Linked DNA regions of Homo sapiens: region 1 is linked to region 2. Evidence: fine-mapped expression QTL. A gene starts in region 2. The other region holds a variant in brackets. All regions are shown on one strand. Distances are between the middles of the regions.

The links. PIP is the estimated chance that this variant, and not a neighbour inherited with it, causes the effect.
Region 1: its variant is the best candidate, but not a certain one, in a credible set for the expression of SPINK9 in putamen (GTEx, PIP 0.87).

The regions. Positions count from the first base shown.
Region 1 is chr5:148,443,853-148,448,257 of GRCh38, reverse strand. No RefSeq gene overlaps it. Among named protein-coding and RNA genes, the nearest start is that of FBXO38, 62 kb to the right of the region's middle. The variant G/A (reference allele first, on the strand shown) is at 2,326.
Region 2 is chr5:148,333,462-148,337,866 of GRCh38, reverse strand. SPINK9 (serine peptidase inhibitor Kazal type 9) reads right to left here and starts at 2,308. Exons shown (of 4, transcript NM_001040433.2): 1 at 2,199-2,308; 2 at 1,414-1,445. The coding sequence starts at 2,253. The region is part of intron 2 of FBXO38-DT (FBXO38 divergent transcript); the gene reads left to right.

The sequences.
Region 1 (4,405 bases), 110 kb before region 2:
AATATTGTCTTCAAGCAAGAACAAAAATAATGTCTTCTTGGTGCTGTGCTGTCTACCCACTTATCTCTTTGGTATTGGATCTCTCTGGTGAGAAAACGTTGTCACTCCTCTCTTTTTGTCTCTTCACTTTGCTGTGGTCAAAATCTTGTAACATCTAGTCTAGGAAGGAAAAAAAGACTAATGCATTTACCTCTTCTGGCCAAAATTTGTAATCTCTTTTCCATCTAATTTAGAAAACTGAGGCTGAATATTTGGTTTGAAGTCAAACAATTCAGGAATGGATTTGAAGTCCTAAGTATGAACAACGCATTGCTTTGGGCCTTACCCAACACTTAACTTCACCTGTCTCATCTACAAAATAGAGATAATTTCTGAGTTTGTACGATTGTTGTAAGTGCTCCAACATGGGTCATCTGAGGGCCACTGTTAGGATTTTTATCAAATGTGTTCTGCCTGTTCTGTTACCTATTTAATATCCTTATTTAAGTCCATTCAAGTTTTCACTTACCTAAATTTATTTTTGAAGGGAACATTATATCAGTACTCAAAATAGAAAAAAAGGCTAATGAGTTTTAACTAGATGCCAGTGATCAAAGTGCAACCTCTGTTTCTGTGTTTAAAAGGGAGACAAGTGAATGTTGGAGAGTTGTTAGAAATGCCCTACCTCTTGCTTGGGGCTCTTTCAGTTAATTGGGAGGGTCAAAAGAGAATTTACAAAAGAGAAGCTTCCAAGCTTTAGGAGTTATTGTGATTTAGCTACAAGCTGCATTCTACACTTTTGGAAACATGGAGAGAAGGGATAAGAAACTGCATACATTTTTAACTACTGTTACAGTGGATTCAGATTAGGTTTCTCCTTCTTTACCTTTTCTTTCAGTTTGCCCCAGATCTATATCTTTGTTAATAAAAATAATAATAAAATAGCAATAAGAGAAACTGACATTTAATGAGTTTTTTTTTTCTGCTAGGCATTGTGGTCAGTGCTTTATATGAACTATTTCATTTAATCCTTATGAAATCCTTACAAGATTAGAATGAAAATTACCCCCACTTTACAGCTGAGCAAACCTCAGCTAAGACATCTGGCGACTAGCTCAAGGTAGCAGACCTGGGAAGTGTGGATTTGAAATGCAAACCCAGGCAGTCTTATTCTAAATGAGGCCCACAGTCCTAAGCATGTGCAACTGTGGTCATTATGGGGATGTATGTATTCCACCTTCACCTGTTAGACACTGCTAGGAGAGAGCAATGAACAATGTTGCTTAAGAATTTTCCTTTCCACATCAGCCTGGGACCCGAAGAGGAACTCTGGAATGCCTATTCCAGTTTGAACTCTGCCACTCATTTGCTTTCTTGTTTTCCTTTGCTCTTGCTTCCTCTCCCTGAGCCTCAACTTCCATCTTTAAACCATGGAAGACTCTGGTAAATTATTGATCAACAGGAAAGGCCCTCTGCACTGATCTTTTATAGTCTGTCTAGTATTCAGCAACCTGGGATTACTGAATAACCAGCAATAGACTGTGAGAACAAGATGTGAGTCAAAGAAAGCATTGGTCCTTTATATTCCAGGCCATCAGAGAGGCTGCTCATAGTAGGAGTGGCCCCTGAAAAAGGCAGTTTGCCTTCCCCATATTTCTTGGTCGGAACCTGGAACACTATTTGGATATGCTCCCATTGGTCTCATTAAGCATCAGCCTACCATTGCAAGCTTTGTGCAGTTTCTCTGCACTTTTATAAGATCTCTAAGTCTCTCATAACAGTATATAAAGAGGGATTGTTGACTTCATTTTACAGAAGAGGAAAGACTTTGTCAGGGAAAGTGATTTGTCCAAGAACAAGAGCTGATATGAGGCTGAAGTCAGAGGACTGAAAACATTCAGATTTCTCAATTCTAACAAAGTGCTTCCTTCTTAAGTTTATTTTATTTCTAAATATATAAATTATACATTTTTAGACTATATAAATAATAGGTTACATAAATGATGTATTTATGCAATCCATTTCCACTGTAAAAATTTGTTATATATATTAATACATACAAGAAAATACCCCTTGACTCCAACTCAATGCTACCCCCCTCCCCAGAAGTAAATGCTTTTTTCACTTGGCTTATGTAATTCAAATGTAATTTTCTATGCATTTACATATGTATAAATGTACATGTATAACATATGGCTTTTTTTCTTATATGTAAATAAAATGATGTTGGTATATAATAATCTGCTACTTGCGTTTTCAACAGTGTACTCTAAACATCATTTCACATTAACACATATAGTTTTTTTTAGCTGCTGCGTATCCATTTCTTGCTATAGACATTGTATG[G/A]ATTGCAGTGTTCTTTTGCATTCTACCTGCCTCCCATGTGTAAATGGGACATCTCCCGCATCAGAAAATCAGCCTCTGTTTTTCTGGGACTGTGCTAAACATAGCTGGAGTGGTTTCAATTTAAGTGGCAGCAGTAAGTTGACTTGGCAGGTTCCCTATTAGGGCAGGCCCACCCTTATATGGGCCTCCTCTCATTATGAAGGACCAAGAAACTGCCCAAGTTGCACAGGCTTTGGACTCATCCTGCAGGATGTCATCCTTTGACAGCATCCTGCTCCCATCAATTCCTAGATGTGTGCTTTTGAGCAAGTTATGTAACCTTCTAAAACCGAGTTTTCTCACCAGTAAAGTAGGAACATATTGATCATACATTTAAAGTGTTATTGCAGGAGGTATGGAAAGCACTTAGTAATGATCACTTTTAAAAATGCTAGCTTTCATACTGTCATGATTTCCTCTTTCTCAACAGCCTCACCAGTTCTGTTTCCTACTATCCTGGAATATGGTATGAGGAACAGGTTATGGAAAGATGAGTCCAAAAAAACCCCACACAGCACCCGCCCCCCGCCCCCCCCGCCACAAAAAACAAACAAAACCAAACTTGGCTGGGCGCGGTGGCTCACGCTTGTAATCCCATCACTTTGGGAAGCCGAGCGGGTGGATCACCTGAGGTCAGGAGTCTAAGACCAGACTGGTCAACATGGCAAAACCCCGTCTCTACTAACAATACAAAAATTAGCCTGGCATGGTGGCGGGTGCCTATAATCCCAACTACTTGAGAGGCTGAGGCAGGAGAATCGCTTGAACCAGGAGGCAGAGGTTGCAGTAAGCTGAGATCGTGCCACTGCACTCCAGCCTGGGCAACACCCAAACTTCTTTTGATAATAAAAGAAATTATACTGGAAGCAATACTACCTCCACTGGCATCACACTGTCCAGTTTACTGGCGGCTCCTATTGGAAACTAACCACTGCCCTATGGGGTGGGTGGTTATATTATTAGTTGTTACCATTTGACAGAAAAGAAAACTGAGGCTGAAGGGTAGGGGTTCCAACCATCTCCAGCTCTCCCATCAGTTGTTTGAGGAAGTCAAAAACTGAACTCAGGTCTTCAGATTCTACATATGAAGTCCCTGTAAGAATTGTGGTACTAGCTATTATTTAGGGAGACTGTTAGACCTACACACCTGGCAATGAGACACAATTCTCTCACTGATATTAAGTTATATATCATCCATGCAGTATTTTTAAGGCCTTTAAAAAATGTGCCAGGCACTGCACTGCACCAACAGCTGGTGATATAATTAAATGAATGAATAGGATATCTCAGTTCTCTATGGCAGGTGTGGCCAAACCGTGGCCTGGAGGCCAAATCTGGTCTATGAGCCTTCAGGATGGTGTTTTACTTTAGTAAATGGCTGTGGAAAAAGTTTTATTTTGTGACGTGAAAATTACATGAAATTGAAATTTGTGTCCATAAAGTTTTATTGCAACACAGCCATGCCCATTCGTTTATATCGTCTATGACTTTCACAATAGTTGTGCAGTTGCCACAGAGAATGTGGCCCATTGAGCCTAAAATATTTACCATTTGGACCTATATAGTTTGCTGACCCTTGCTGTAGAGCAATCACTCTCCAGCCCTTCGTATTATATATATATTCAGAGTGACTATCGTAGTTGGCATCTTCCAGATTTTTTTTCAGCTATTCCAGTCTTAGCAACTTTTGAATGATTTTAGCGCTGCCAGCTGTACTTCCACTGATCTAACAGTTTAGGTTAGGTTAGACAAAGACATGACTAAGCCAAAAATTACAAAGCAGCGGCCTCTTGTGGCTAATGTAAGCATTACTTAGATAATTTGGTTAACAGGTTACAGTGAAAACCTAGAGTTAGATTGTCTTCGCTCAGGGTTGGGAATCCCAGATTACTTTGAAATATCTAGGATATTCTGTATTTCCTGCCTCTTACCACACTTGTAATCTGTATAGTGAAACACACTTGTCTAATTATAAGTTAGCTGAGTTAAAAATAATGTAATAAGGAGACAATAGAATGAAGTACCCAATTGAATCACTCTT
Region 2 (4,405 bases):
CATATTTTTTAAAAAATCTATGAGCATATAGAAGAGCATATAGAGTAAAGTCAAACACATCTGAATGCAAATTCTATGTGACCCTGTAAAAATTTTTTTACCTCTCTAAACTTTAGTTTTTTTATCTGTAAAATAAAGATAATAACCACATTGTAGGGTGGAAGTAAAAAATATGTAAATGAAAAGATATGTGTACAATGCTTAGCACTACATTGCATGGAAAATATTGAATGAATAATAGGCACAATTTTTTATCTTTTGATTTCTCTTTCAGGTCTACACAAACTCCAGCTGTATACAAAAGACTGCATCTCCAGCTTGTTTTGTCTGAGAGGTCTAGGCATGATATTTTATTAATTGTGGACTATCTCTACTTGAATAGCTTGGAATATACTCAAACTTAAAGTTGAATTCTTCCTTCCCTCCAGATGTGCTTCATTAATTAATTCATTCATTCATTCATCAGCTTCCATACACCTCCTGTTATCGGGCTAAGGTTAGTGGAGCTGATGCAAAGATAGGTATGCATGGCATAATGGCAGGAGGACCTTAGAGGCTAGTGCAGCAGAATAGAAACAGCAGTGCCTGATGATAAGTATATGCCAGCGTGATTTCACTTCCTCTTCTTGCCTGCTCAAATCCCAGGGAGACAGAGTTTATGTGATACTCAACAATGTGATGGGAAACTACCAAGCTCGTAACTTTCAGTAATCCTTTACATCCTCTCACAGCTACTAAATCATGAAGGATGGCTTGAACTCAGGCCCATCTGACTCCAAAATTTATATCCTTAACCCTATTATTTTCTTTAATAGGTAAAACAGAAGCCTCAAAGACATAAAATAAATTTCCCAGGCCCCAGTGTCACACAGTTAATAAGCAACAGAGTTTAGAGTGGAACTCAAATTGAGTACCAAATAAGATTTTTGCTACCACACCTAGATTTTTTCAACAATACTCATTACTGTAACCTGAGTCATGAATGGAAGGCTAAATTAAAGTCCTTATTTTCTAAGACAGAGAACAAAGATATGTGTGACCCATTTAAAAATTATAAGAATCATGACTTGCCCTTATTGAGTTTCACTCTATGCCAGGCACTGTGCTAAGCTCTTTTCAAATACTATGGCTTCAAGTCTTGGAATAATGTTATAAGTATGTTGCCCATGGCCACGTGATCAAAAACGTGGAATTAAAGACCAGGCCTTTCTAAATTTGTTGCTAGTGTCTCACCACCTTGTTCTACTCTCTCCATTTTAGAAAGATCTGCCTACAATTTTTGAAATAAAACCAGTTTTCATACACATAAAGTAAATATTCAAACATATAGAAATTTAATTACTGTGTAGTATCAAATATTTCCTTACTGATATTGACTTTAAAATTACATAAAAGTAGGATGGGTGTACTGACCATCTGTTTCGTCTGTTTGGCACATTCTATACCTGGAAGAAAAACAAAGACAAGGCAATATTAAACTCTGGAAGAACCTAATCTTACTAGAAAAAGAATCTTTGATTTATGCTTTAGCTTTCAGCCTGTCATAAAAATGTAAGTCTCTCTTCACAACTGTGTATCAGCATTGTATCAAAGGTTGAAGCTCTTCACACGTATCTTTAAATTTTTTTTCTTTTTTGGAGTGGGAGTGGAATCTAGTCAAAGAAATGGAAAAGATGCCACGATGAATGAGAATTTTGTCTTAATCTTTTTTACTTCATAACCAGAGCTCAGTAGAGACAGAAGAAATAAGTGAGTCATATTTAGGGAGATGTGCTATTGTGGACAGGTGTAGATGACAGATGTTGGAACAGTGGTTGAAAATTCTAGGGAGGCCAATTTTAACTCAATAATAGAAGAATAGCCCATGGTGCCAAACAATTGATTGTAATGTTTTATGAATAAATGAGTTCCCTGTAAATGGTGACATCAAGTCAAAGCAGAGTCTGGATGATCCTCTCCCTAAAAAATTATACAAAGTATTCTCATGAATAAGCATTTGACTTTAGATGACTGTTAACATCCACTCTACCCCTGAGGTGATGTGATTTAGCAATTCGTTGGTTGAGGCAAAAGATTCATTTTAAAAAGTTTCCCTTATTATTTATGTGATGAATTACATATATCCCAGAATTACATAGGCAGAAGACTGCATGAGCTATTAGTACAAGGGCAGGGGCAGTATTATCAGAGATACTCACTGAACATGGTTGCAAGTGTCAGAGCCAAGAGTAGGACTATGGCTGTTGCTCTCATAGTACTGAAGTGGCCAAGGCAGTCAGATGTAGGGAAAAGAAGTGACCTGGTGTCCGTCCAGCTCACTTTGATCCTGCCTTATATATTTTCAAGAATTCCTGCCTCAATTGTGAAATAGCAATTTCTAAGTAGTACAACTCCAGAAAGAGGTCAGAAATGTCTGCGAGCCATGGGGATTCTTTTCTTGTGAAAGACAGGTAATTGCACATGCCATTTTAATAGCTAGTCCCCAAACCCAGGCTGATGGATGAAGAATGAGATGGTAGCTTTGCTTTGAACTACAATTACGTACATAATCAGTGGCATTTTTCATTTCATACAATAACTTGCAATAGACAAGCCAGCAATCTTTTGGCCATGGTTTAATAAGTTTTAATTGTTCCTTAATTAAACCATGAGTCATTTGAATTCTTTAATAAAGGCTACAAAAGTGCTGATTTTGGAATGGGCTAGGTTTCAGATAGAGTGACTATGAGAAAACTCTGGAAGAAGCTCTTGCAGGTGTTGTAGGTAGAATTGGAGGACACTTTATACTACTAATGGAAGTATTAGTATCTAAGGCTGAATTTCACATTTATTTCCCTTCTAAAGTAAAGAGATAGCTGAAACTTATTCTGGTATGATCTGGGGACAAGATCATCATACTATCTCTGAGAGCTGAAACTTTGGGAATCTTGCACACCTGAACTAATTGCCAGCTACACCACTCTCCATGTGACCTTGTACAAGCTATTTATCCGCTATAAGCCTTGGCTTTTTTTAATCTTCATTTGATCATCTCATAAATATTAATGAGCATTTACTCTGTCTTAGAGACTGTATTTTATCTTGAATATGCCACAGTCCATGAAAAACTGACTGCTCTCATGTAGTTTGAGAAAGACCGTCTTCTTTTTTTTTTTGGAGACAGAGTCTTGCTTTATCACCTAGGCTGGAGTGCAGTGGCGTGATCTCAGCTCACTGCAACCTCTGCCTTCTGTGTTCAAGGGATTTTCCTGACTCAGCCTCCCAAGTAGCTGGGATTACAGGAGCATGCCACCACACCTGGCTAATTTTTGCATTTTTAGTACAGACCGGATTTCACCATATTGGCCAGGCTGGTCTTGAACTCCTGACCTCAAGTGATCTGCCTGCCTTGGCCTCCCAAAGTGCTGCAATTACAGGCATGAACCTCTGTGCCCAACCGAAAGACTCTTATCTTCTTGATCAAACTTATTTAAGGTCCTCTGGACCCTTTTCTTGACTAGGCCTTGGCATTGGCCCTCATTTTGTCTTTGGCCTCCCCAGCTCCCAATTTAGTAAAGAACTTACTAAATTTAGTTTTAGTAAAGAATCCTACTAAATCATAATCATCCCCCCCAATTCTTAATATCTGATCACCCTTGATATCTGATAAAGTTCCTTATCCTCCACCTCTGACATATAATTGCTTAGCCTGCCTTTAGTAAGAATCCTATTAGGTCTTTTTATCAAGAATCCCCCCTACCCTTAATGTCTTCTATTAAGTTTTCTATGCACTGACCCCCTCATTATTCTTCTTGGCTATAAATCCCCACTTGTCCCTGTTGTGTCCAGAGTTGAGCCCAATCTCTCTTTCCTATTATAATAATTCTATTATATTAGAATTAAAGGAATCACCCTGCAAAGGTGATGATAATAGCAATAACAGTAAGCATACTTACTGAGCACATACTATGCCTCGGGTACTAGTGTAACTGCTATAAGTATACTAACTCATTTAAATTTCAAAACAAGTTAATGAGACAAGTATTATTACAATCAAGAATTTAAAAATGAATGAAGTGAGGTACAGAGAAATAAGTTTTTCAAGGTCATAAGAGTAAGTAGTAGTCAGGGAAGAGGTGGGACTAGACTCCTGAGGCAGAGCTTGGACACTGGAACAAATTGGGAACTAGCCAAAACAGGTCCAGAGCATAAGGACTTCTCCATAAGACATGCCTCACAGTATGCCATGTCAGTTTACCATTGCCATGGCAACACCCAGACATTACTGCCCCTTTCCATGGCAATGACCTGACAACCCCATAGTTACCACCTTCATCCTAGAAATTTCTGCATAAGCTGTCCCTGAATTTGCATATAATTAAAAGTGGGTAAAATATGAGTGCAGAACTGCCTCTGAGCTGCTACT